4 linked regions of the Homo sapiens genome follow. The protein of the gene in region 1 interacts with the protein of each later gene in a biochemical or structural test. Each region holds a gene or a part of one and is shown in the gene's direction. Other genes may lie near its edges. The genes, in order: STAT5B, ABL1, KIT and PTPN1.

Evidence for each region.
Region 2: the proteins of STAT5B (region 1) and ABL1 interact in a biophysical measurement, tested with the Homo sapiens proteins (one study listed by IntAct).
Region 3: of the proteins of STAT5B (region 1) and KIT, one has a biochemical effect on the other in vitro, tested with the Homo sapiens proteins (one study listed by BioGRID).
Region 4: the proteins of STAT5B (region 1) and PTPN1 form a complex in vitro, tested with the Homo sapiens proteins (one study listed by BioGRID and IntAct).

The regions. Positions count from the first base shown.
Region 1 is NC_000017.11:42,209,233-42,215,515, reverse strand, and holds part of STAT5B (signal transducer and activator of transcription 5B), read left to right. Parts: intron 1-913; coding exon of another isoform or gene 914-934; exon of another isoform or gene 935-984; intron 985-3,325; coding exon 3,326-3,532; intron 3,533-5,018; coding exon 5,019-5,113; intron 5,114-5,214; coding exon 5,215-5,345; intron 5,346-6,283. UniProt on the Homo sapiens protein: Carries out a dual function: signal transduction and activation of transcription. Mediates cellular responses to the cytokine KITLG/SCF and other growth factors. Binds to the GAS element and activates PRL-induced transcription.
Region 2 is NC_000009.12:130,878,943-130,883,753, forward strand, and holds part of ABL1 (tyrosine-protein kinase ABL1), read left to right. Parts: intron 1-1,125; coding exon 1,126-1,215; intron 1,216-1,557; coding exon 1,558-1,722; intron 1,723-4,811. UniProt on the Homo sapiens protein: Non-receptor tyrosine-protein kinase that plays a role in many key processes linked to cell growth and survival such as cytoskeleton remodeling in response to extracellular stimuli, cell motility and adhesion, receptor endocytosis, autophagy, DNA damage response and apoptosis.
Region 3 is NC_000004.12:54,721,606-54,727,888, forward strand, and holds part of KIT (mast/stem cell growth factor receptor Kit isoform 1 precursor), read left to right. Parts: intron 1-1,978; coding exon 1,979-2,093; intron 2,094-4,251; coding exon 4,252-4,445; intron 4,446-5,612; coding exon 5,613-5,719; intron 5,720-5,810; coding exon 5,811-5,937; intron 5,938-6,217; coding exon 6,218-6,283. UniProt on the Homo sapiens protein: Tyrosine-protein kinase that acts as a cell-surface receptor for the cytokine KITLG/SCF and plays an essential role in the regulation of cell survival and proliferation, hematopoiesis, stem cell maintenance, gametogenesis, mast cell development, migration and function, and in melanogenesis.
Region 4 is NC_000020.11:50,571,278-50,577,560, forward strand, and holds part of PTPN1 (tyrosine-protein phosphatase non-receptor type 1), read left to right. Parts: intron 1-3,239; coding exon 3,240-3,377; intron 3,378-6,283. UniProt on the Homo sapiens protein: Tyrosine-protein phosphatase which acts as a regulator of endoplasmic reticulum unfolded protein response. Mediates dephosphorylation of EIF2AK3/PERK; inactivating the protein kinase activity of EIF2AK3/PERK.

The DNA.
Region 1 (6,283 bases):
TCCACCATTTCCTCACTCCATGACCACATGGGCAGTTCACTTTACCTCTCTGAGCCTGAGTTTCCAGCAAGTGTCTGCAGCACAGGGATACTCTTGCTCTACAGCATTGTTAGGAAGATTAAATTAGATAACATAGAAAATGCTTGCCACACAGTCAGTACTCAGTAAATATTATTTTGAATCCTTGGGTGAAACTATGAATGGGATTTGGGACTCCTAGGTTCACTCCAGAGGTTAGATCTCTCCAGAGGCTTACTTTAGCATAGAAGTTGCTTCATACCCTCTTCCTTTCAATAAATGAAGATGCTGTTAAATGTCTTTTCCAAATTTTAGTTTCTGTGATTCATTCTAGGTCTCATGAAGAATGAGATACTTTGCCTCAAGGAAGATATAATTTGGTGGATTTATGCACCCAAACGCTATCTGAATCCCACTAGCATGCTGCTCGATGAGCATTTTAAAGATCTCATAGGCTGGGTGCGGTGGCTCATGCCTATAATCCCAGCACTCCAGGAGGCCAAGGCAGGCAGATCCCTTGAGCTCCAGACTAGCCTAGGCAGCATAGCAAAATCCTGTCTCTACAAAAAATACCAAAAAATTAGCCAGGCATGGTACACCAGCCTCTAGTCCCAGCTACTTGGGGGGGGCTGAGGCGGGAGGATCGCCTGAGCCCAGGAGGTCCAGGCTGCAGTGAGCCAAGATTGTGCCACTGTACTCCAGCCTGGGTGACAAAGCGACACCCTGTCTCAAAGAAAAAAATTTTTTTAGTAGGCAAAGGTCATTTGTTACATATTTCCAATAGAGATTAGTCCATAAAAGCATGATAAAAGGGTTATCATTTGGGACATAAGAGCATGTCCTTCTCTAAGTATATCCAACAAACCTTGATTATGTTTTGTTTTGTGGCTGTTAGAATATAGGATTTGACTGTTAGTTCAACAGCTCATTTACAAAACAGCATGGACAGCATGGGTTACCTTCCAGTTGTGTGTAAAGAAGGTGAAATGGAACCTTCTGGCTCACGTGGAGAGGCTTAACGTTTCCCAACACTCCTCTTTAGAGAAAAAGTATTTTACTGCAAAGGTGAGATTTTTAAGAGATTTACCATACTTCACTTACAAACTCTGAATCAGAAGCTCCTTTTTGAAACTGTCTGTCTGCCTCTTGTCCTGATAAGCCTCCTAGATAAGATTGCCACATCTCTTGTTTCCTTCCCTGCCTGTCCACAGATCTCACTCTCTGTGTACCTTTGGCATCTCCTGCACCATGTAATTACTCAAGTATCTTGTCTAAATAAATAAGCATTTTTAACATTCTCAGCTATGTTAATGACTACTTACATCTTATGCTATTTTTTTTTTTTTAATTTTTTTGAGACAGAGTCTTGCTCTGTCACCCAGGCTGGAGTACAGTGGCATTATCTCGGCTCACTGCAGCTTCTGCCTTCTGGATTCAAGCGATTCTCCTGCCTCAGCCTCCCGAGAAGCTGGGATTACAGGTGCATGCCACCACGCCCAATTAATTTTTTATATTTTTAGTAGAGACCAGGTCTCACCATGTTGGCCAGGCTGGTCTCGAATTCTTGACCTCAAGTGATCCACCCACCTCGGCCTCCCAAAGTGCTGGGATTATAGGCATGAGCCACTGCACCCAGCCGACCTTATGCTATGTTAAAAAAAAGACTTTCAGCTGGGCACGGTGGCTCACACCTGTAATCCCAGCACTTTGGGAGGCCGAGGTGGGTGGATCATTTGAGGTCAGGAATTCGAGACCAGCTTGGCCAACATGGTGAGACTCTCATCTCTACTAAAAATACAAAAATTAGCTGGGCGTGGTGGTGCGTGCCTATGATCCCAGCTACTCGGGAGGCTGAGGCAGGAGAATTGCTTGAACCTGGGAGGCAGAGGTTGTAGTGACCTGAGATGGTGCCACTGCACTCCAGCCTGGGCAACACAGTGAGACTCTGTCTCAAAAAAATAAAAAATAAAAAATAAATAATAAAGACTTGTGGCCAGGCACAGTGGTTTATGCCTGCAATCCCAGCACTTTGGGAGGCCAAGGCAAGCGGATCTCTTGAGCCCAGGAATTTGAGGCCAGCCTTGTCAACATAGCAAAACCCTGTCTCTACAAAAAACACACAAATTAGCCAGGCATGGTGGTGCACGCCTGTAGTCCCAGCTGTTTGGGAGGCTGAGGTAGGATAATTACTTGAGCTAAGGAGGCAGAAGTTGCAATGAGCCAAGATTGGGCCACTGTACTCCAGCCTGGATGACAGAGCGAGACCTTACCTAAAAAAAAAAATAATTGTGGAAATTTATTCTCCATATATATTTGCCTATGTGTCCTGTGGGTCAAATAACATAAGAACATTGCAGCATTGTTAGTAATAGCTAAAGATGAGGCTGTAACACTGATGCCCATCTATGGGGGTCTGGTGAAATTTCTTTATGTGCTGATGGGAGGTCTCCCAGATAGAGGATTAAGTGAAAAGAGGAAGATGCAGAACATGTGGATTTTGTGCTGTCATTTGTGAAGAAAAGGAAAAGGTATATGTCATTGCTGGCATGCATAGAATATCTTTGGTGGGATACACAAGAAACTGTGTTAGGTGCCTTTAAAGAAAAGAACTGGGTTGCTGGGAGACAGGGATAGGGAGTGACTTCACTGTGTAGCCGTCTGTGCTTTTTGAATTTTAAATCATGTGAAAATCACCTATTGAAAAAAGTGTTTGTAACAAAATAAAATGGAGTACTATGGCTGAACGGGTTGAAAAGCAGTTTATTAAAAGTTAATCTTCTAACCTATTTCTCAATAAAGCCATCCAACTCAAAATTTCCACTCTTCCATACCAAGTTGTTTTACTTTGAGCTAGAATTCTTGGCAGAAGGAGTCGAGGGCAATGATTCCACGTGTGTACACACATGCCGACACGTGTGCACACATACGCACACTCTCTCTGTTTGTACCTAGAGGACCAGTCTTTCAGATTTCTAAATTCCCAAGGTGTTTACAATCTAAGAGCCAGACCTTGGTTATGTTTTGGTTTGTGGCCGTTAGAACATAGGATTTGACTGTTAGTTCAGCAGCTCATTTACAAAACAGCATGGATAGCATGGGTTACCTTCTAGTTGTGTGTAAAGAAGGTGAAACGGAACCTTCTGAATTTCACAGAACCGTGTACCCCAGCAGAGTCTGAATTTATCCTCAGGCCCTGCAAGACAAATGTGTGTAACCACTCCCAGCCATCAGCGTTTTTCTTTTGTGGCTTGAGGGAATAAATCATGCAACTGTTTTCTCATCAGATTCTGGCCTCTCTCCCTCTCAGGGCAGGGTGCCATTTGCCGTGCCTGACAAAGTGCTGTGGCCACAGCTGTGTGAGGCGCTCAACATGAAATTCAAGGCCGAAGTGCAGAGCAACCGGGGCCTGACCAAGGAGAACCTCGTGTTCCTGGCGCAGAAACTGTTCAACAACAGCAGCAGCCACCTGGAGGACTACAGTGGCCTGTCTGTGTCCTGGTCCCAGTTCAACAGGGTGAGGAGCCCAGCTGCCAGCCGCTGTTAGATCAGTCCTTCCCAACCAGATGCTCTCAGGAGTCTCCCTGCCCTGGGCCCTTATTCTTCATGTCTCTAATAAAATGTACCGAAAGTAATAGAAGCTTCTGACTAGATGGACAACTTGAGAGTTACCCAGGTCACGTGTAGAAAATTACATCTTTGCATATTTTAAATAAGTTGACCTTTGTCTACAGTTAATGCATTTTCTTCCTTTGTAAAGGAAATAGAGCAAAGCAGATGTTAACATAGCTCATGAGAAGCAAAGCTTTTGAGGGGATGCGAACTCTGGGCCTCTCTCCCCTTTACTCTCTTATGTTCCCCATGTGTAATGCCAGATCAGGCTCCTATGGGACCCTCAACCCACAAAGAGGGATGCTGATGAAAGAAACTCCTCCTCTAGCATCTGCTAATTCAGACGTCACTTTGATTTTATTTTTATTCATTTTTTTTTTTTGAGACAGAGTTTCGCTCTTGTTGCCCAGGCTGGACTGCAATGGCACGATCTTGGCTCACCGCAACCGCCGCCTCCTGGTTTCAAGCGATTCTCCTGCCTCAGCCTCCCGAGTAGCTGGGATTACAGGCATGCGGCACCACGCCCCGCAATTTTGTATTTTTAGTGGAGACGGGGTTTCTCCATGTTGGTCAGGCTGGTCTCGAACTCCCGACCTCAGGTGATCTGCCCGCCTCGGCCTCCCAAAGTGCTGGGATTACAGGCGTGAGTCCACTGTGCCCACCCTATTTATTTTTGTTTATTTATTTATTTTTGAGATGGTGTCTCGCTCTGTCACAAGGAGTGCAGTGGTACATTCTGGGCTCACTGCAACCTCCGTCTCCCAGATTCAAGTGATTCTCCTGTCTCAGCCTCCTGAGTAGCCGGGATTACAGGCACCCGCCACCATGTCCAGCCAATTTTTGTATTTTTAGTAGAGACGGGGTTTCACCATGTTGGCCAGGATGGTCTCAAACTCCTGACCTCAAGTGATCTGCCTACCTCAGCCTCCCAAAGTGCTGGGATTACAGACGTGAGCCACCATGCCCGGCTATCACCTTGATTTGAATTTAATTTTTGTTTCTTTTCCTACACCCCCCACCCCCAAGGTGTTTTAAATGTTTAATTTGGAGCCTAACAACGTGCATTTCTCAGAAGCTCCCAGGTGACACTGATGCTTCTGGTCACAGACCACACATCGAAACTAGCAAGGGACGGGTCAGCCCAGTCCCAGGTGAAAGTGTCTGTAGCAGGAGCCCACTGGGTGCTGGTAACTGCAGTTTGGTATTTTCCCCTTCTTCCCTCTTTTCCTCTCCATGGGGCCATTAGGTAAAACTCAGGTAGGCGGGGATATTTGTATGCCTCTGACAAGGGTAGATGTTTGTTTCCCATTTAATTTTTCCAATTAAATATGTGTATAATATTCCAAGTGTTACTCTGGTGTTCTTATGTTCACTGTTGTATCTCCAACCAGGAGAATTTACCAGGACGGAATTACACTTTCTGGCAATGGTTTGACGGTGTGATGGAAGTGTTAAAAAAACATCTCAAGCCTCATTGGAATGATGGGTGAGAATCATTATTTCTTAAGGCGCCGACAGAGTCTGAAGGTCTTCTCTCTGGCATCGTAAGTCACACTCTGCTTCTGTCCTTTGTCCTTGGTGATCCAGGGCCATTTTGGGGTTTGTAAACAAGCAACAGGCCCATGACCTACTCATTAACAAGCCAGATGGGACCTTCCTCCTGAGATTCAGTGACTCAGAAATTGGCGGCATCACCATTGCTTGGAAGTTTGATTCTCGTGAGTGCCCCTCCCTTCTTATGTCCAAAGTTAGCTGCTTTCGTTACAAAATTATTTTAACAAATAATTTAGTGGGTACTTACTATTTGTTGAGGTCAGTACTAATTATGGGAAACATAAATGTATAGCCATGACATACTCATAATAAGGCAGCCTATGAAAAATACTATTATGGGAAACACAATTGCTAATTTGGTTATACATGAAAGTATATGGCAGCATGGTTACACATGAACATTTAACCATGACATGGCTACCTATGATACAAGAGTCCGTGCAGAATCTCAGTTGCTTCCCTCTTAAAATGTTTGCCTTATTGTACTACTCTGCATAAAGCTTATTTCAGTGAAGAATTTGATGATTTGGAGTTCTTACAGTAGTAAAAATATTCCTTTATCCTAATTAACATATGGATATTGCCATCAACCATTTCTACCCAAGATGTTAGTTCTTTTCTTTTTTTGAAACAGGGTCTCACTCTTTTGCCCGGGCTGGAGTGCAGCGGCACAAACATGGCTCACTGCAGCCTTGACCTCCTGGCCTCAAGCAGTCCTCCTCCCTTAGCCTCCCGATTAGCTGGGACCACAGACGTGCACCACCACACCCATCTAATTTTTAAATTTTTTGTATGTTGCCCAGGCTGGTCTCGAACTCCTGGGCTCAAACAATCCCCCACTTTGGCTTCCCAAAGTATTGGGATTACGGGCTTGAGCCACTGCACCAGGGCATCAGGAAAGTTAGTTCTCTCCTCTGACCCTCACAATAAGGGTAGCTTGCTGGTTCATTTTCTGTGAATTAAAGTTTTTAATAACTTTTGGCTGGGTGCGGTGGCTCATGCCTGTAATCCCAGCACTTTGGGAGCCTCAGGCAGGAGGATCTCTTGAGGCCAGGAGTTCAAGCCCAGCTTGGGCAACATAGTAAGACCCTGTCTCTAAGTA
Region 2 (4,811 bases), on another chromosome or scaffold:
TGTTGGCTCACTTCAACCTCCACCTCCCTGGTTCAAGCGATTCTCCTGCCTCAGCCTCCCAAGTAGCTGGGATTACAGGCATGCACCACCACGCCCGGCTAATTTTGTATTTTTAGTAGAGATGGGGTTTCTCCATGTTAGTCAGGCTGGTCTCCAACTCCCAACCTCAGGTGATCTGCCTGCCTCGGCCTCCCAAAGTGCTGCGATTACAGGCGTGAGCCACCACGCCCAGCTGCGAGGTGATTTTTATCTGGTCGTTTTATACTGATTACATATGTGTTATCTGTACTATGCACACACAGGATGTTTTCATATATCTTATAAGGTATTTATATGGCCATTTCTTACACTGTTTTCCCACACATGTCTTTCCACGTCCATATATTCAGATCTCTCCCTCTCCCTACCTCTTATTTATGTATAGCTGCCCAGTACTCCATTTCACTCATTCATCCGGTCCTCTTTTGATGTGCATTTGGTTGTTTTACACATTTGTTTGGTTTTTGCCCTTATAAACAAAGCAGAAACAAATATTCATGTACACGAATCTCTGGGCACTTTGGCTGGTATTTCTAAAAGTTGAACTGTTGGTTCCAAGAACTGTGTGGGTTTTAAATTTTGATACATTTTACCAAACTGTTAAAAAAGGTTGTGCCATTGTATGCTCCAGTCAGACGCATATGGGAGTGACTGTTCCTGGTCCCCAGTACTAGGCTTTGTCAGTCTGTTTAGTCCTCATGTTAGTCTCATTTTCATGAGAATTTCTTTACTTCAGACTTTGATAACCGTGAAGAAAGAACAAGATAGAAGGTGAGCTGTTTGGCTTAGTAATTTTCTACACCTACTAGAGCGGGACTGGGAAAAATATATTTGTAAATGCAGTTCTTGCTGTCACTGTCTCTCTGGGGTTTTACAATCCATATTCCTGCCAGCATCTAACGTCTTTTCAAATTCTTAATGTCTATAACAGGACATGATGACATTCATCGTTTTGACTTGTTGCAGCAAAAGATGGTTAGCAGGATTGGAATGTTGCTTTCATTCTAGACTTTTCCTTGAGAACTGCTAGCCCCGTATTGCTAGCCAGATCTCATGGATGATCTGACTTGGGTTTCATCTGTCCAGGTTGGCAGTGGAATCCCTCTGACCGGCCCTCCTTTGCTGAAATCCACCAAGCCTTTGAAACAATGTTCCAGGAATCCAGTATCTCAGACGGTAAAGTACCCATCCCGGGGTACCTGCAGTGGGGTGAAAGGGCAGCCATGTGGGACTGCAGCCTGGGTCATTCGGTTCACTTCCTGGTGAAAGTTCACAGACCAGCCTGTCCTGAGACCAGAAAGCTGGGCAGAGGTGTGGAGTATTGTGCTTTCTTGTCTGCTGCAGCCCTGCAGAGTTCTAAGAAATGCTAAGGGCTGTTTCTCCGGTATCCACGTGCCTTTTCTTTAGTTGTATGCAGATGAGCACTGTTACCTTACAAAGAAAGAGAACCACCACACCAAGCCAACACCAGTACTGATGGCTGCTGGATTTTTGTTTCTGTCCCTGTATGATTCTTAGAAGTGGAAAAGGAGCTGGGGAAACAAGGCGTCCGTGGGGCTGTGAGTACCTTGCTGCAGGCCCCAGAGCTGCCCACCAAGACGAGGACCTCCAGGAGAGCTGCAGAGCACAGAGACACCACTGACGTGCCTGAGATGCCTCACTCCAAGGGCCAGGGAGAGAGCGGTAAGTCCCCCGCTTCCCCCAACCCCACTGCTCTTCCCTTCCCTGCCAGAGGCTACATTCAGGCCATCATAGGCCAACGGGAAGCTGTGAATGGAGCCCGCACAGAAGGGCAGCCATGGCCTTTGTCAATGGTTCAGCTTCGGAAGGAGGAAGGTTCTCCTCTCCCCACCTGCCTCCTATCCCCTCCCTCTGAGAGTCCCCGAGGAGCATAGGCTCCAGCAGTGAGTTCAGTCCTGTAGGCAGAGGTGCTTCTGAAGCCCGCCAAGGAGCTAGCCCATCTCCCACCTATTACCCGCGGCATCTGTGGTTGCTGTCTCAGAGCAGATTCAACAATAGTAAGCACCAGGCTGCGTGACAAGCAGCTCACGGTGAAGGCACTGATGTGAGAAGCTCGCTGCAGCCAGGTGGAACCAGGACACGCACATGGACAGAACCCGTGTCCTGGTGGTCTCTGGGAAGAGCATCTTTCTGGTGCCATTGCCTAGGCGAGCAAGGGAGTTGGGATCAGCTCAGGAGGGGGTCTCAAGACACTAGCAAAAATAATAATGGCCAACATTTATGTAGTGTGCCTACTACAGGCCAGGCTCTGTTCTATGTTCATGGTTGACCCCCAGAACCAGCAGTCCAGGTTCTGCTGCAGACCAGCTGAACAAAAGCATTGAGGGGTGTATTAGTCTGTTTTCATGCTGCTAATAAAGGTATACCCAAGACTGGGTAATTTATAAAGGAAAGAGGTTTCACTGACTCACAGTTCCACATGGCTGGGGAGGCCTCACAATCATGGCTGAAGGTGAATGAGGAGCAAGGTCACATCTTACTTGGCGGCAGGCAAGAGAGCTTGTGCAGGGGAAGTCCGCTTTATAAAACCATCAGATCTCGTGAGACTTATTCACTACCACGAGAATGTGGGAGAAACCTCCCCATGATTCATTGATCTCCACCTGACCCCACCGTTGACACGTGGGGCTTATTACAATTCAAGGTGAGATTTGGGTGGGGACTCAGCCAACCCATATTGGAGGTGGGGGGTAGGCCAAGCATCTGGGTTCACAGAGGATCCTGGGGATGGCAATGGTGGACTCCATTCTAATGGACTGCAGACTGGGTACATGTGAAGGGACTGGACAAAGCCCTACTTCTTGAAGATTTATGGTGGGATGTTTACTGACAGCAGAATCTATAAACCTGAGTTTTATCACGTACTCTCATTAGTAAAAAAAAAACAAAAAAAAACAGAACATGCAGCCCATATATATGGTATATAAAGTACGTATGTCCACTACTGTAGGAGTAGAGTGCGTATGTTATGTACCAAAACGCACATTTAAAAGGCTTGCATGCTAAATAAGTCCAAATTTGCAATACTTCCCGCCCCGCTGGGCCATCTCACTCACCTACTTGGAGGTTATGGCGTATAGACTCTCCAGAATCTTCCACCCTTCCTCCTCTTATCGGTTTTCCTGATTTCAGGTGGCTGAGCAGTAGGGAGGAGAGGCCTCTGGGAACGCTGTGCTTATTAAGAACCCAGTGATCAGCAGTCATGTTCATTTACGCCCGTCAGTTTCATCTGAGGGGTATTTTGATAGTGATCTCTTGGTGAGCCGAGGGTGTCAATTAACTGCTCAGTGCTGAAACTGAGTGGTGCATAATTCATTGCAATTTCACTCTCCTGGCCTCCTTCCACTAGATTAAAGTTTTGGGAGGGCTTTGGTGTTCCCTGATTCAGATGTCCCGCGTGCTGCCTTGGGTTCTGATAAATGCATACTGGTACCTCTGTTGAGTTACAGGTGCCAACAGAAAACCTCTTCTTGCAAGCTGACCTCTGAGGGAGAATTCTGTTACTCACTAGCAGGAGCTTGGCAACACCAAAAAGATTTCCTTTTTTTTTTGAGATGGAGTCTCACTCTGTTGCCAGGCTGGAGTGCAATGGCATGATACCAGCTCACTGCAACCTCCACCTCCTGGGTTCAAGCGATTCTCCTGCCTCATCCTCCTGAGTAGCTGGGACTACAGGCGTGTGCCACCACACCCAGCTAATTTTTGCATTTTTTAGTAGAGACGGGGTTTCATCATGTTGGCCAGGATGGTCTCTATCTCTTGACCTCATGATCCGCCCACCTCAGCCTCCCAAAGTGCTGGGATGACAGGCTTGAGCCACCGCGCCTGGCTACCAGAAAGATTTCTTATGAGCTATGATTCATATTTAAAGAGTGCCCATTAAAAAACTGTTGGCCGGGCGTGGTGGCTCACACCTGTAATCCCAGCACTTTAGGAGGCCGAGGTCAGCGAATCACAAGGTCAGGCTCCCGTGGCACAAGCTGGGGGCTGCCCCCACCCCATGCTCCCCAGAGGAGCACCCAAGCGTCTGGGCTCAGACAGGCCTGGATCTGATAACCGGCTCTGATGCCACCATCCCTGAGGCCAGGCAAGTCCCAGCCGGGCTACAGCACTGTTGTGAGAATGCAGATGAGGTTGTAAAGGTGAAGCACGTGTCACGCTTCTCTCAATAAAGCCATCATTGCTGTTAGGATTGTCATTAGGAAAGGCTTTGGGCCGGGTGCAGTGGCTCATGCCTGTAATCCCAGCACTTTGGGAGGCCAAGGCGGGTGGATCACCTGAGGTCAGGAGTTTGAGACCAGCCTAACCAACATGGTGAAACCCCGTCTCTACTAAAAATACAAAATTAGCCAGGCGTGGTAGCGGGTGCCTATAGTCCTAGCTACTTGGGAGGCTGAGGCAAGAGAACCATTTGAACCTGGGAGGCGGAGGTTGCAGTGAGCTGAGATCGTGCCACTGCACTCCAGCGTAGGCAACAAGCGAGACTCCAACTCAAAAAAAAAAAAAAACCACACACACGCTTTGGTCTCTTTCCCTGAAGATGGGAACAAAAAGCTGGACGGCCCTGGCCTCTTCATCCCTGCACTGGTTTACTTGAAGGCAGCAGCCCCCCACCCACCCACATCACTCTCTAGTGAGTATAAAAACGATGACAAGGCCAAGCAAAGGGTCAAAACCTGTGGCTCTCCTGCCAGCCAGCTAGCCGAGAGGCCTATGAGGAGCTCTGGGAATAAGGGGCTGTGTCCCACAGT
Region 3 (6,283 bases), on another chromosome or scaffold:
GGTGGGTGTGTCATGCATGTGGATACTCTGATCTCCGCCAACTCCAGGGAGGTGCCTCCAGGGAGGTGAGGTGCTGAGAGGTTATTCTACAAAGATGTCATTTATCAGTGTTACCTTCCTTTGGGGAAATAAACTTCCTAAGTTTCTGATCTGTCAGTCTTTCCTTCTCACTGCATATATTTTCCCTATCAGTTGCAATATAATTGATGTTGAATTCCCTGCGCATTGGGTTAAAATATACACCTTATCAGACTATTCTAAAGAAGGAATTTTTAGATTATTGAGGAGAATATTTAGAGTGGCAAATACAGTTCACTTCATTTGTAGTGAAATTGGTTATCCAAGAAAGGTAGATATTCTGATTATAAAATAATAACTCAGTATTAATAGTAATAATAAATTTTATTGAGATGGAGTCCCACTCTGTCACCCAGGCTGGAGTGCAGTGGTGCTCACTGCAACCTCTGCCTCCTGGGTTCAAGCCATCCTCCTGCCTCAGCCTACCGAGTAGCTGGGACTACAGGCGCATGTCACTGTGCCCAGCTAATTTTTGTGTTTTTAGTAGAGATGCGGTTTCACTGTGTTGCCCAGGCTAGTCTCAAACTCCTGACCTCAGGTGATCCACTGCCTCAGCCTCAGCCTCCCAAAGTGCTGGGATTATAGGCTTGAGCCACCGTGCCCAGCAATAATAATAATAAATAATTGTTTCATTTCTATAAGTCATTCTTAGCTCTCTGTATGTGCCATCTCATTTAATTGTCTCAATATCCCTATGAGAGGGGCACAGTTATTATTCCCATTTTACACATGAGGGAACAAAAATTTAGAGAGATGTAGAAACTTACTCAAGTTCAAAGAACTGAGAAATGTAAGAGCTGGTATTCAGATGTGTCCACTATGCATGGGGCTCCCGTAATTCTGTGCTTAGACTTGGCACAATCAATGCTATTCTTCAGAGTACAGGGTGAGCATATCAGCATCCCTGCCATCCTGTTGCTTCTGTTGAGCTTATTTATTCTTAGAGGGTTGGAATCCTTCAGATGTATTGCCATCAGAACCACCGAGTATAAGTGCATCTTCCTTTCACTTTGTAAATAACTTCAAAAATTAGAAATTCTTGAGTGTTAGCTGGTTATTGTAGTTACATAGAAATACCAAATTAGAGCATTTCTGCTGTTACAGTGAATATATTCAGATTTATATATATATTTATATATATATATGTATTTATATATATTTATATATATTTTTATATATATGTATATATATTTATATATATGTATTTATATATATATATTCACGTTCATAATATACATAAATATATAAATCTTAGGCTGGTTTTCTTTTCTAGTTTTCTGTTCATATTTTGCATTTGAAACAAAGATTTGAAGTAAAGCCCATATTGTATTTTACTCTTTATGTTCTAGCTTCCCTGTAAATAGAGTGATTCGGCTTTTAATCGGCACCACCCTTCCACCCCCAAAAAGGAGAAAATTCATGTAAGAGCAAAAGAGTGGGGCTTATCTTTTCCTCTAACAACTCCTAATTTCATCCATTCCAGTTCCCACAATAACTTGAAATTCCTAGGGCAGGTACAGTTGCTTGAAATCCCATTGGCAGGAATCCTTTAAAGTAGATTTTTACCTGTGGAACACTTTGGAGTCCTAGAGTTTGATTAGAAGCAGTCTTCAGATCCCTACTCCCTGAAAGCAGAAACCCTGCAGTTGGCCCTGCCACCTCTGCCTCAGCCATCTCCTCTGGGGCTGGGCCACTGTGGCTGGGAAAGCCTTTCTGGGTTGGACCCTGACAGCCGCCTCCTTGTACCTTCCACTCCTTGGTTCAGATTCTGCCCTTTGAACTTGCTCCCTCAGGCTACTCAGCAGCCTCAGGAAGGTTGTAGGGATTAGAGAGGGAGTGAAGTGAATGTTGCTGAGGTTTTCCAGCACTCTGACATATGGCCATTTCTGTTTTCCTGTAGCAAAACCAGAAATCCTGACTTACGACAGGCTCGTGAATGGCATGCTCCAATGTGTGGCAGCAGGATTCCCAGAGCCCACAATAGATTGGTATTTTTGTCCAGGAACTGAGCAGAGGTGAGATGATTATTTTTGGCACTGCTTATAATGCAGAGGGGAAGGACTGCAATTCACTTGAATTTCAAATATGTTTTCTGATTTTTTTTAAAAAAGCTTTGTTTTGATTATTGTTTTTTTTCTAGCCATGTGGCTTTTTAGAAGGGATAATTGCTATATTTTTCTTGGTAGACATTAATTTTGTTTGCTGAAAAATCATTACTGAATGACTTCTCTATTTTGGTGTTATCTTTCTGGATTTATCATGCAATTTCTAGCCTGCAGGTAGATAAAGCAATTTTGCAGGACAGAGTAATTAGATTTCCATTCTATACACAGGAGGTAATGTGTGTGGGAAATGTGACTGTAGTTATCATGAAAAAATTACCTCAGTAGTTAATTGCCAAGTTACCAAAAAGTAATGATCGCACAATTACAACATACATATGGCATTTGCAAGCGACCGCTTTTAAAAAGGGTTTCTTCTTGATAATGTGCCCAGCCCCTGAACAGAGAACATCTGGCACTGTGCTGCTTGCCCCTCACCATCCACACTTAAGCCTTAAATTGCCCTTTTGCATTACCTGAAGACGAAAATGGGGTCACCACAGCTGTTTTTATCCATCAATTGCTATTTTATGCTCAGGCTTTAAAAGCCCAGGTTAACATCACAATTGAATAGTTAGTATGGTCGCAGAAATTTTATTTTTCATGGAATAAGCCTCTTTATCACAACAAGTTGGAAGGGGTTACATCGGATTGCTGTTTTCAGCTGGGGTTTAGGAGAGTGTTTTCTTTTGGGGAATACTAAGTAGGGTTCAAGGCCCCTGGGAGGAATGGCCACAGCAGAAGCAAGCCCTGTAGTTACAGGCATTCATTCAGTAGATACACAGGGAGTGGCAAGTGTGTACCAGACACTATTCTAATGGACAGAACACACCCAAGTCTTTTTGCCTTTATGAGTTTATGTTCTAGTGCAGGGGTGTTCAGTCTTTTAGCTTCCCTGGGCTACACTGGAAGAAGACGACTGTCTTAGGCCACACATAAAATATAGTAACACTAACGATAGCTGATGAGCTAAAAAAAAAAAAAATTGCAAAAAAATCTCATAATGTTTTAAGCTTCATGAATTTGTGTTGGGTCGCATTCAAAGCCGTCCTGGGCCACATGTGGGCTGCAGGTTGGATAAGCTTGTTCTAGTGGGTAGAAACACATAATAGATGGAATAAACAATGAATGTATGTAGGTGTTAAGAAAGGAAACAGGGAATAGCTAGGTGTTTAGAATAGGGAAGTCGGGGTCTGGCTCATGAAAAGGATCCCTTGCAGTGGTGGTCTCAGCCACCTGCAGTATAACTAGGCCTTCCTGCTTAGAACTCAAACTTCAGTCCTCACTTTGACTATTTTCTGGTCTACATCCTTGATTTTGTTGTTGTTGTTGTTGTTGAGACCGAGTCTCACTCTCTTGCCCAGGCTGGAGTGCAATGGAGTGATCTTGGCTCACTGCAACCTCTGCCTCCAGGGTTCAAGTGATTCTCCTGCCTCAGCCTCCCGAGTAGCTGGGATTACAGGCGCCTGCCACCACGCCCAGCTAATTTTTGTATTTTTAGTAGAGACGAGGTTTCACCATGTTGGCCAGTCTGGTCTTGAACTCCTGACCTCAGGTGATCTGCCCACCTCGGCCTCCTAAAGTGCTGAGATTACAGGTGTGAGCTACTGCGCCCGGCCCCTTGAAGATTTTTTATGCTTTCCTCCTCTATGCTATTTCTTTTCAACCATTCGTGTACCCTTTTGAAGCTTGTTTATTTTAGGGATCTACTGTGTACCAGCATATATGCCTGCCATTTTATTGAATTCCTTTCCAATCCTTTCAGTAACCCTCTGCAATGGGTATTACTATCCCTGTTTTACAGTCGTAGAAACTCAGTGTTGGTGGGGGTTAAAAACTCATCAGGATTCAAACCCGCATCTGACTCCGAAGCCTCCTCTGCCTTCTCTTCCCCAGTGCTTTTTTCACTCACTAGGTCACCAAAGTGCTTATTCTTAGACACTTGTAAAAGGACATTTTCTGTTGATTATGAACCTCTAACTTTGTTTTAAAAGTATGCCACATCCCAAGTGTTTTATGTATTTATTTATTTTCCTAGAGTAAGCCAGGGCTTTTGTTTTCTTCCCTTTAGATGCTCTGCTTCTGTACTGCCAGTGGATGTGCAGACACTAAACTCATCTGGGCCACCGTTTGGAAAGCTAGTGGTTCAGAGTTCTATAGATTCTAGTGCATTCAAGCACAATGGCACGGTTGAATGTAAGGCTTACAACGATGTGGGCAAGACTTCTGCCTATTTTAACTTTGCATTTAAAGGTAACAACAAAGGTATATTTCTTTTTAATCCAATTTAAGGGGATGTTTAGGCTCTGTCTACCATATCAGTCATGATTTTAAGTTCATTCCAACATTGACCATGTCATTTCTGGTAATACATGCATCACACCATACTGTCATCAAACTCACTAAGTTTCATTTTGTACTAGCTTGTTAAGTATATGCTTTTACCAGAGCAATTTTAACCATGCTACTTTATATATTTTATATGTATGTGTGTCTCTATTAGTTGTATATTTACAATTGTCTCCATTAAAAAGAGCTAGAGAAAGCAAATGGGGGAATATATTTACCTTACACCCAAACAGAATTAGAACAATCTAAAATTTAAATTCAATTAAAAATTTCAGTTATTTAAAATGAATTATTTTAACACTTTGCCAGACACTGTATCCAAAAGTTAACACTGCCTTTATGAAGTCATGTTAGCAAGTTATTTCTTTAAAATATTTAAAATTTGATTCATGTGTGACTAACTCTCTTAACAAGTTAAAAGATCTTTTGGGCAAACTGATGAATTGGTACAAAGTGGGAAGACAAAGAAACTGGGCACTTACTTTTTAGGCCTTCTTGGGGTTTTGTTTGTTTGTTTGTTGTTTTCGTTTTTTGAGTCGGCAAAGACTAGTGCCAAAAAGTGGCGTGTTTTCTCAGGTTTTGAGTAGTGAGGGGAAGAATCTTCCATGTTTTTCAGACAGGGCAACGAAAAGAATACCTTAAAAATGTTTTTTTTTTTTTTGGTTGTGAAAGACATTCATGCTCAGTGTAGAAAATTTGGAAAATACAGGAAAGCTTAAAGAAGAAAATATAAACCGTCCATAAAGGAAGCTTCTTTTTTTTAAAGTTGTACAAGGCAGGAATTTGATTGAAGTATAAAGTGCATTCAGATGTTGCTTTTCATTGAAAAACAGCATAAATTATTCCTTTTCTACAGAAATCTCAACTTCTATTCTGCAGTATTGTGGTTTCAAGTTATATTTTTAAAGATTCATTTGAATAACAAGAGTACAATGTAACCAAGGTGAAGCTCTGAGACTCACATAGCTTTGCATCCTGCCATGGGCTGTGAGTTGGGAGGTGGGGTCAGTTTGGGACTGAGTGGCTGTGGTAGAGATCCCATCCTGCCAAAGTTTGTGATTCCACATTTCTCTTCCATTGTAGAGCAAATCCATCCCCACACCCTGTTCACTCCTTTGCTGATTGGTTTCGTAATCGTAGCTGGCATGATGTGCATTATTGTGATGATTCTGACCTACAAATATTTACAGGTAACCATTTATTTGTTCTCTCTCCAGAGTGCTCTAATGACTGAGACAATAATTATTAAAAGGTGATCTATTTTTCCCTTTCTCCCCACAGAAACCCATGTATGAAGTACAGTGGAAGGTTGTTGAGGAGATAAATGGAAACAATTATGTTTACATAGACCCAACACAACTTCCTTATGATCACAAATGGGAGTTTCCCAGAAACAGGCTGAGTTTTGGTCAGTATGAAACAGGGGCTTTCCATGTCACCTTTTTGGGTACACATAACAGTGACTTTAAGGAACTCCAGTGGCTTCCTTTGTTTTGTTCCACCTGAAACAATGAGTTTTCTGTGAAATTGCGCCCCTTTTGATAGGTTTGCCATAGAGAACATCGTAGGAAAATGTCTCTGGACAACATTGTTTTTAATTCCTTTATTGATTTTGAAACTGCACAAATGGTCCTTCAATTCCACCACCAGCACCATCACCACTTACCTTGTTGTCTTCCTTCCTACAGGGAAAACCCTGGGTGCTGGAGCTTTCGGGAAGGTTGTTGAGGCAACTGCTTATGGCTTAATTAAGT
Region 4 (6,283 bases), on another chromosome or scaffold:
TACTGTGATAACTGTGCCAGCAGTCCCTGCTTTCCTTTGTTAAGTATCCCATTCCACTGGAGGATTACTTGGGCGTGCAGATTGGCATGAAAAGCAATGTATGGTTTGAGATTGTTAAAGTTTCTTTGGGATCAACATTTTCAATTCTGTATCAGCATTATCCCTCCCAGAGGGCTGGCTGGGAGAAATCATGAGAAGTTACAGTATCTTATTTGCTCAGCTAATCTAATTATAAATGATCCACACAGCTTGTGGTAAAACCAGCTTTTGGGGAGTTTTCATTTAATGCATACTTGTCTTCTGATTTCCTTCCTTCACCAAATAGTGTAGGATGCTCCCTCTTATTTTTGGCAAACATGCCTGTTATCTTTTGGGACCCTGGGCTTCCTGGAAACCAGTTATGCAGAAGATGATTGTGTGTGTTAGACTGGGGTCATCCAGATGGCTAGAGTTCTCACTGGTTCTGTTTAAGGATTGACTTTAGACACCTCAGTGTAGGCTGCACCATGGCGTAAGGGTTGGGATTGTTGTTTAGAAGGGGGAAGTAAGCAAGGTGAGTTTAATTGGCCATTGCAGAATCTCACCCGTATCTCCCTCCTGAAATCCTCACTAAAGCTGCCGTTTGCTTTCAGGTGCTTTCATGCACAAGACACTGCATTTTGTATCACAGGGTCCATATAATTCATTTTTCTCTCGTACTTAGTTCTCTGTGTTAAGAATTACTTACTTAGTTCTCTGTGTTAATAATTTTTGGCGAAACCAAATTACCCGTCACAGGGTTACTGTAGATGTCTTTCATAGGTTTTCCAAACACCACTTGCCCACTTGTTTGGGAAGGCCCCAAGGACTGTTTAACATCTGCCTTCATGGTGGAAACAGCAACTATGAGAGATGCTAGCATGTTGGCACTGCCATGTTCCTCTGGTACCAGCCCAAGATAGGACTCAATTTGAGGCCTGGTGAAGTACTGTGTTCTAATAAAAATCCATCTACTTTTCATGGCCGTATATATCAATGTAATAGGGTAACTGGAAATGTGATCTTGTGCCTTTTAAAAATTTTGTGTGTTTAAAACAAAAATTTCTATTGGAAATGACAGAGCATAGCTTGTTGCTGTAGACACCTGAGAGTCCTTAAAAATAAATATTGGGTTATTGACACTTAGTTGCATGACAGAATTCCTCACTTGTACAGTTCCAAAGTCTTAGTCTTTACCCAGATTACAGAGGGTTATTAAGCATTAGGTTTGGTTTTGAAAGTGAGTGCTTGCTGTCTGGAGGTGAGCTTTAAGACTCGTCTGCCCTGCTTATGAGATGAGGAAGGGTGGCCTCTTCCTCCTGCATTTCTGTTCTTCGCTTCCTTCTCTGTCTGCTCACTCTGTGGAATGCCCACCCCAGCACGGGTGGGGTGGAACCTGTCAGATCAGTCTCTTGTTTCTGGGGTCTTGAGGCATTATAAGATCTAGTTGTTAGAAGTGTGGGATTAATTCATCTTTTCACATTCTTCTAAGTTCCTGCTTTTAGCTGCCACACCCACTTTGGCTAAGTGGGGGTCTTGCCATGTAATTAGCGCCTCCATGCCAAGTGGCAGAATTGCTTCAATGGTGACAGATTGTCCCCATTCAAGAGTTCACTTTTGGCAACTCATCATTGATCCAGGAAGGTGACATGGATGAAACTGGCTAAGACTTCAGACAGGCTTGTGTCCAGACTCTTGAGAAAGCTCTGTTGGCTTCTGGTCTGGCACTGTGAAGTTTGCTGTGATGCTGGCACCACAACCTGGTGTTTCCTAATTTGTTTCTCCCACATTTTGCTTTGGTTTTGTCTTTTGGGCAGCTTCCAGCTCCAGTAGAGCAGGACCAATAGGCATTTGTGGTTCTATATTCACCCTCCTCACGTGCTTCCTGGCTCCTCATTGCCCCCAGATGATGCCACAGGTCCCTGGGCCTGCTGCCAGTCGTCTGTGATCTGGGCCTCTGCTGGCCCCTTCTCCAGCTGCTCTTTTCAGCCTCTTATTTGCAGTCACTGCCTAGGAAATCCTAGTCATCCTTCAAAACCTGCCTCTTGCACAGAGCTTTCTCTGATCTCTCTTTTCTGTAACCTTGGCTGACCTGAAACATTTCCCTCTTCTGAATTCCTGCTGCATGTCCGTAGCATTTCCCCCTCAGCCCTCCCCCATAGTCCACCTTGTCACTGCTGGGCACAGCAGTGTCTTCTGACAGACAGCTGGCCCTGAAGTGGTTCCCTTCACCCACACCATCCTTTGCCCCAGAGGAGGTATTGAGTGGGTCAGTGCACGTGAACTGCCAGTGTCATTTGCCAAAGAGCTGTTGACACACGCTGACATTTCTTTTGCTGAAAATCATAAGGGCTTTGAGCTTCCCTCTGTCCAGGCACATGGTCAGGCTGACCCGGTAGCTCTGCCCCTGCTGACCTGCCATTTTTGTCCACAACAGTTATCCATGAGCAGAAACATTTGTGTAACTGAGGCAGAAACTTAGTTCAAGTAAAATGTCACTAAATTCGAGTCAGTTTTTGTCTTAGACCCTAAATGAAACCAAATTTTCATAAATTTTCTTGTTTTAAAGAAAAATTTAATGAGCTACATTTAAACTGAGAACATCAGATAGTGTCTGAGATTATCAAAATAGAACATCAAAAGTATTTTTCTGAATGAACTGAACCAAACCAGAATGAAAGGGCAAGCCCTGGGGAGCCTGTCTCCAAGCCTTCTCTGAAAGGGAGTCTGTATTTGGTGATAACTGCTCAGCCTCTCCAAAGGGCCTCACCTGCTGTCTCTCCCAGTTTTATTTTTAATTGCCTGTGAGTTTTCTGTGCAGGGTAAGGCACCTACATTCTATGCCAGCAGCCTGATCAGGTCCTGGGTAATGTTTGAAATGGCTACACAGAGGAGTTTCAAAGCCTTTTGTTCAATCTGGCTTCACCTCGTAGACGGTGAGAAAGCGTCAGAGCCCTGCAGGATCCCGTTGCCACGTTTGACCGGGGAGCCGATGGGTTTGGAAGTCTGAGCCCTGTCTGCACAACCTGCCCCGGTCAGCAGCTTCGTGCCCCCACCCCCATCTCCCCATGAGGCAGGCATCTGTGCTGACCATGGCTTCCATGTTCAGAAACCCCCAGGCCTTTGAGTTATCATGAAGCTTGTGGGATGTGCTCCAAGCCTCCTGCCATAGAAAAACTGCCATATTGCTCACAATAATTCACTATTATTTGTTTCCCCAGTTAAAATGCGCACAATACTGGCCACAAAAAGAAGAAAAAGAGATGATCTTTGAAGACACAAATTTGAAATTAACATTGATCTCTGAAGATATCAAGTCATATTATACAGTGCGACAGCTAGAATTGGAAAACCTTACAGTGAGTATAGCACACACTTCAGCACTTCAGGCGGCTACTGGTTCACATGCCTCTTCCTTTATCCCTTGGGTGATATTACCTAATGTCAGTGTTCCTGGCTTTTGTATACCCCGAGCAAGATGTGGTTTGGGCACTGTGGTGAGCGGAGCTTACTTGTGTACCTACCAAGTGCCCAGGGAGGGTGGAGGCCACAGTGCTCTCTCTGACCTTTAACAACAGTTAACACCAGTTCTTAGGGAAAGGAGAGTTTCTTACCCAAAAGACTGGTTCCTGCTTGTGCAGCTGCAGAGGGACTGGAGCGGCAGCCTGCAAGTCCCAGTGAAGCATGCTGCCTTCTTTGTGGTCCTCAGTCTTCGAGTCTGAAGAGAGGGAAGAAGGGGTATAGGGGCTCACTCCAGTTTCATAGCTAGTGAAAGTTTTCTGGGCCAGGTCTTGGGTTTTTTTGTTGTGGGAAGAGTTTATAACACCAGCTACTTGCTTGGTAAAAGTTGGTCTTGGAACATGGCAAGGCATTGTGGCAAGCAGCACTGCCGCTGAACGCGCTGCTCCTGGGGCTTTGGAATAATTCCCCTGGATCCGTAACTTGGGGGTGTTCATGTCATTCTGGGGAACAGTGGAGGGAGTGCGCGGCAGCACCTGGGGGCACCAGTGAAGAGTGGCCAGCCACCAACCTCTAGAACCTAACTGGGGTCGAATCCTGGCCCCACCTTACTAGCTCATCACAGTGTCTCCGTTTCCTCTTCTGTCAAACTCAGGTTTTGCGAGGGTTCTGGGAGGTCCTATACGGGAAGGGTTAGCAGTTACCATGGGTGTGTAGCACGGGCTTTATCTGAAGGGAAGGTGGAGCCGTAGGGAGACCATGTGGAGTGGGGCTCCAGGGCTGTGTGGGTGGGGAGGGATCTGCTTCTGGGTTACCCCATGCCTCCCCTTCTCAAGTACTACTTTTTAATCATCATGGCTCCTGCCATTCATTTCATAGTTGATGTAAGCCAGGTGCGGTGGCTCACGTCTTTAATCCCAGCACTTGGGGAGGCTGAGGCCAGGAGGATCACTCGAGGCCAGGAGTTCAAGACCAGCTTGGGCAACATAGTGAGACCCCCGTCTCTACAAAAAAACAAAAACAGTTAGTCAGACATCGTGGTGCTCCCCTATAGTCCAGCTACTCAGGAGGCTGAGGCAGGAGGATTGCTTGTGCCCGGGAGTTCAAGGCTGCAGTGAGCTATGCTTGCACCACTGCACTCTAGCCTGGGTGACAGAGCAAGACCCTGTCTCAAAAATAAATAAATAAAAAAAATAGTAGAAGTAAGATCTAGAATGTAGCACAGGTTACCAGGACGTAGGCAAGGGGTTCGGGCTGCCTGGCTCTTGAGGATGGTAGCAGTGCAGCTGATGTGAGTGCTTTCTGCCCTCTGGTGGTGACCGCGCCGGAGTCACCAGCCCTGCCATAGCCCTGATGGGGCAGAGGGTTCTGAGTACGGTGGATGGAGGTGCTTTCTGGAAGATTCTCAGGAGTAACATGGGCAGTGTGTTGGAATGTGCTAGAGGATTTATGCAGTAGCCTTTTAAAAGAATGCTTTTTAGCATTTGCAAGCCTGACATTAAGAGTGACTTCTGGGAAACTATTTGCTTGTTGAGGGAAACTGAATTTCAACAGAGCAGAAGAGCTGTGCGCTTTTTGCTTGGCAGAGTGAATACAGCCAGCTCAGAGGTTTTGATGTTAGGATCTGTTTGCTCCAACAGACTTTGTTTTTAAAAGGCTTTTCTCAGCCATAGCTGTCTGTTCTAGCACAAGGCTGGAATGAGTTCCTTGTGAAAGAGGTGAGCAGGTGTGAGGGAGGGTGTCAGTGGGCGGTAACCCACACCTTCAAGGATTAAAGGAAAACTTGCATTTGGCATGCTTGCTTCTTATTCAATTTTAAAATACATTTTAACGGCCGGGCACGGTGGCTAACACCTGTAATCCCAGCACTTTGAGGGGCTGAGGTGGGTGGTTCACGAGGCCAGGGGTTCAAGACCAGCCTGGCCAAGATGGTGAAACCCCATCTCTACTAAAAATACAAAAAAAAAAAAAATTAGCCGGGCGTGGTGGCGGGCACCTGTAATCCCAGCTACTCGGGAGGCTGAGGCAGAGAATTGCTTGAACCCAGGAGGCGGAGGTTGCATTGAGCCGAGATCATGCCACTGCATTCCAGCCTGGGCGGCAGAGCAAGACTCTGTCTCAAAATAATAATAATAATTTTTTAAAAATACATTTTAAGTCCTTTTCTTCCCCACCTGCCTCCACCCACCAAATAGAAGAGGTATTTCTTCTTCTTTAATGTCATTAAGGTTATATGGATACCATTTTCTAGAGAGGAAAGAATGATGGAATTGCCTAGTGTGAGTCTAGCAATTATCCTAACATACACAAATTTCTCCTTGTTCTGTGCCAAGATACTGTATTTAATATTTAATGAACATTAAATATTATTTACTAGTGTATTTAATGGCTGAGGCAGGGTTAAATATGTATTATTTTCATCCCAGCAGAGTTGGGGGAGGTCCTAGTAACTATGCCATGAGCTCTGTGAGGGTGAGGTGGTGTCTTTGCCCCCGCCTCCCTGGCACAGTGACTGGCACATGATTGGCATAGTGTGGACATTCGTCAAGTGAAGGAAGGCATCATGAGCAGATCTCTGGCCTGAATCCTTCTGCCATCAGCTGCTCGCCAGGTGGCCCTGGCACTGGGCCACAGGGAAACTCTCCAGGCTGGTATGGTTCCTGTCTGTGGCTGTCTTCCCGGGCCCATGTTAGGAGACTTTCACTTCCAGAGCCCTTTCCCTCTCAGGGCCTTGCTTACCAAGTGACTGGTTCCCATTTACTAGGAGCTCTTAGGTCATTGAAGATGTTGCGTACTCCCCCCAGTG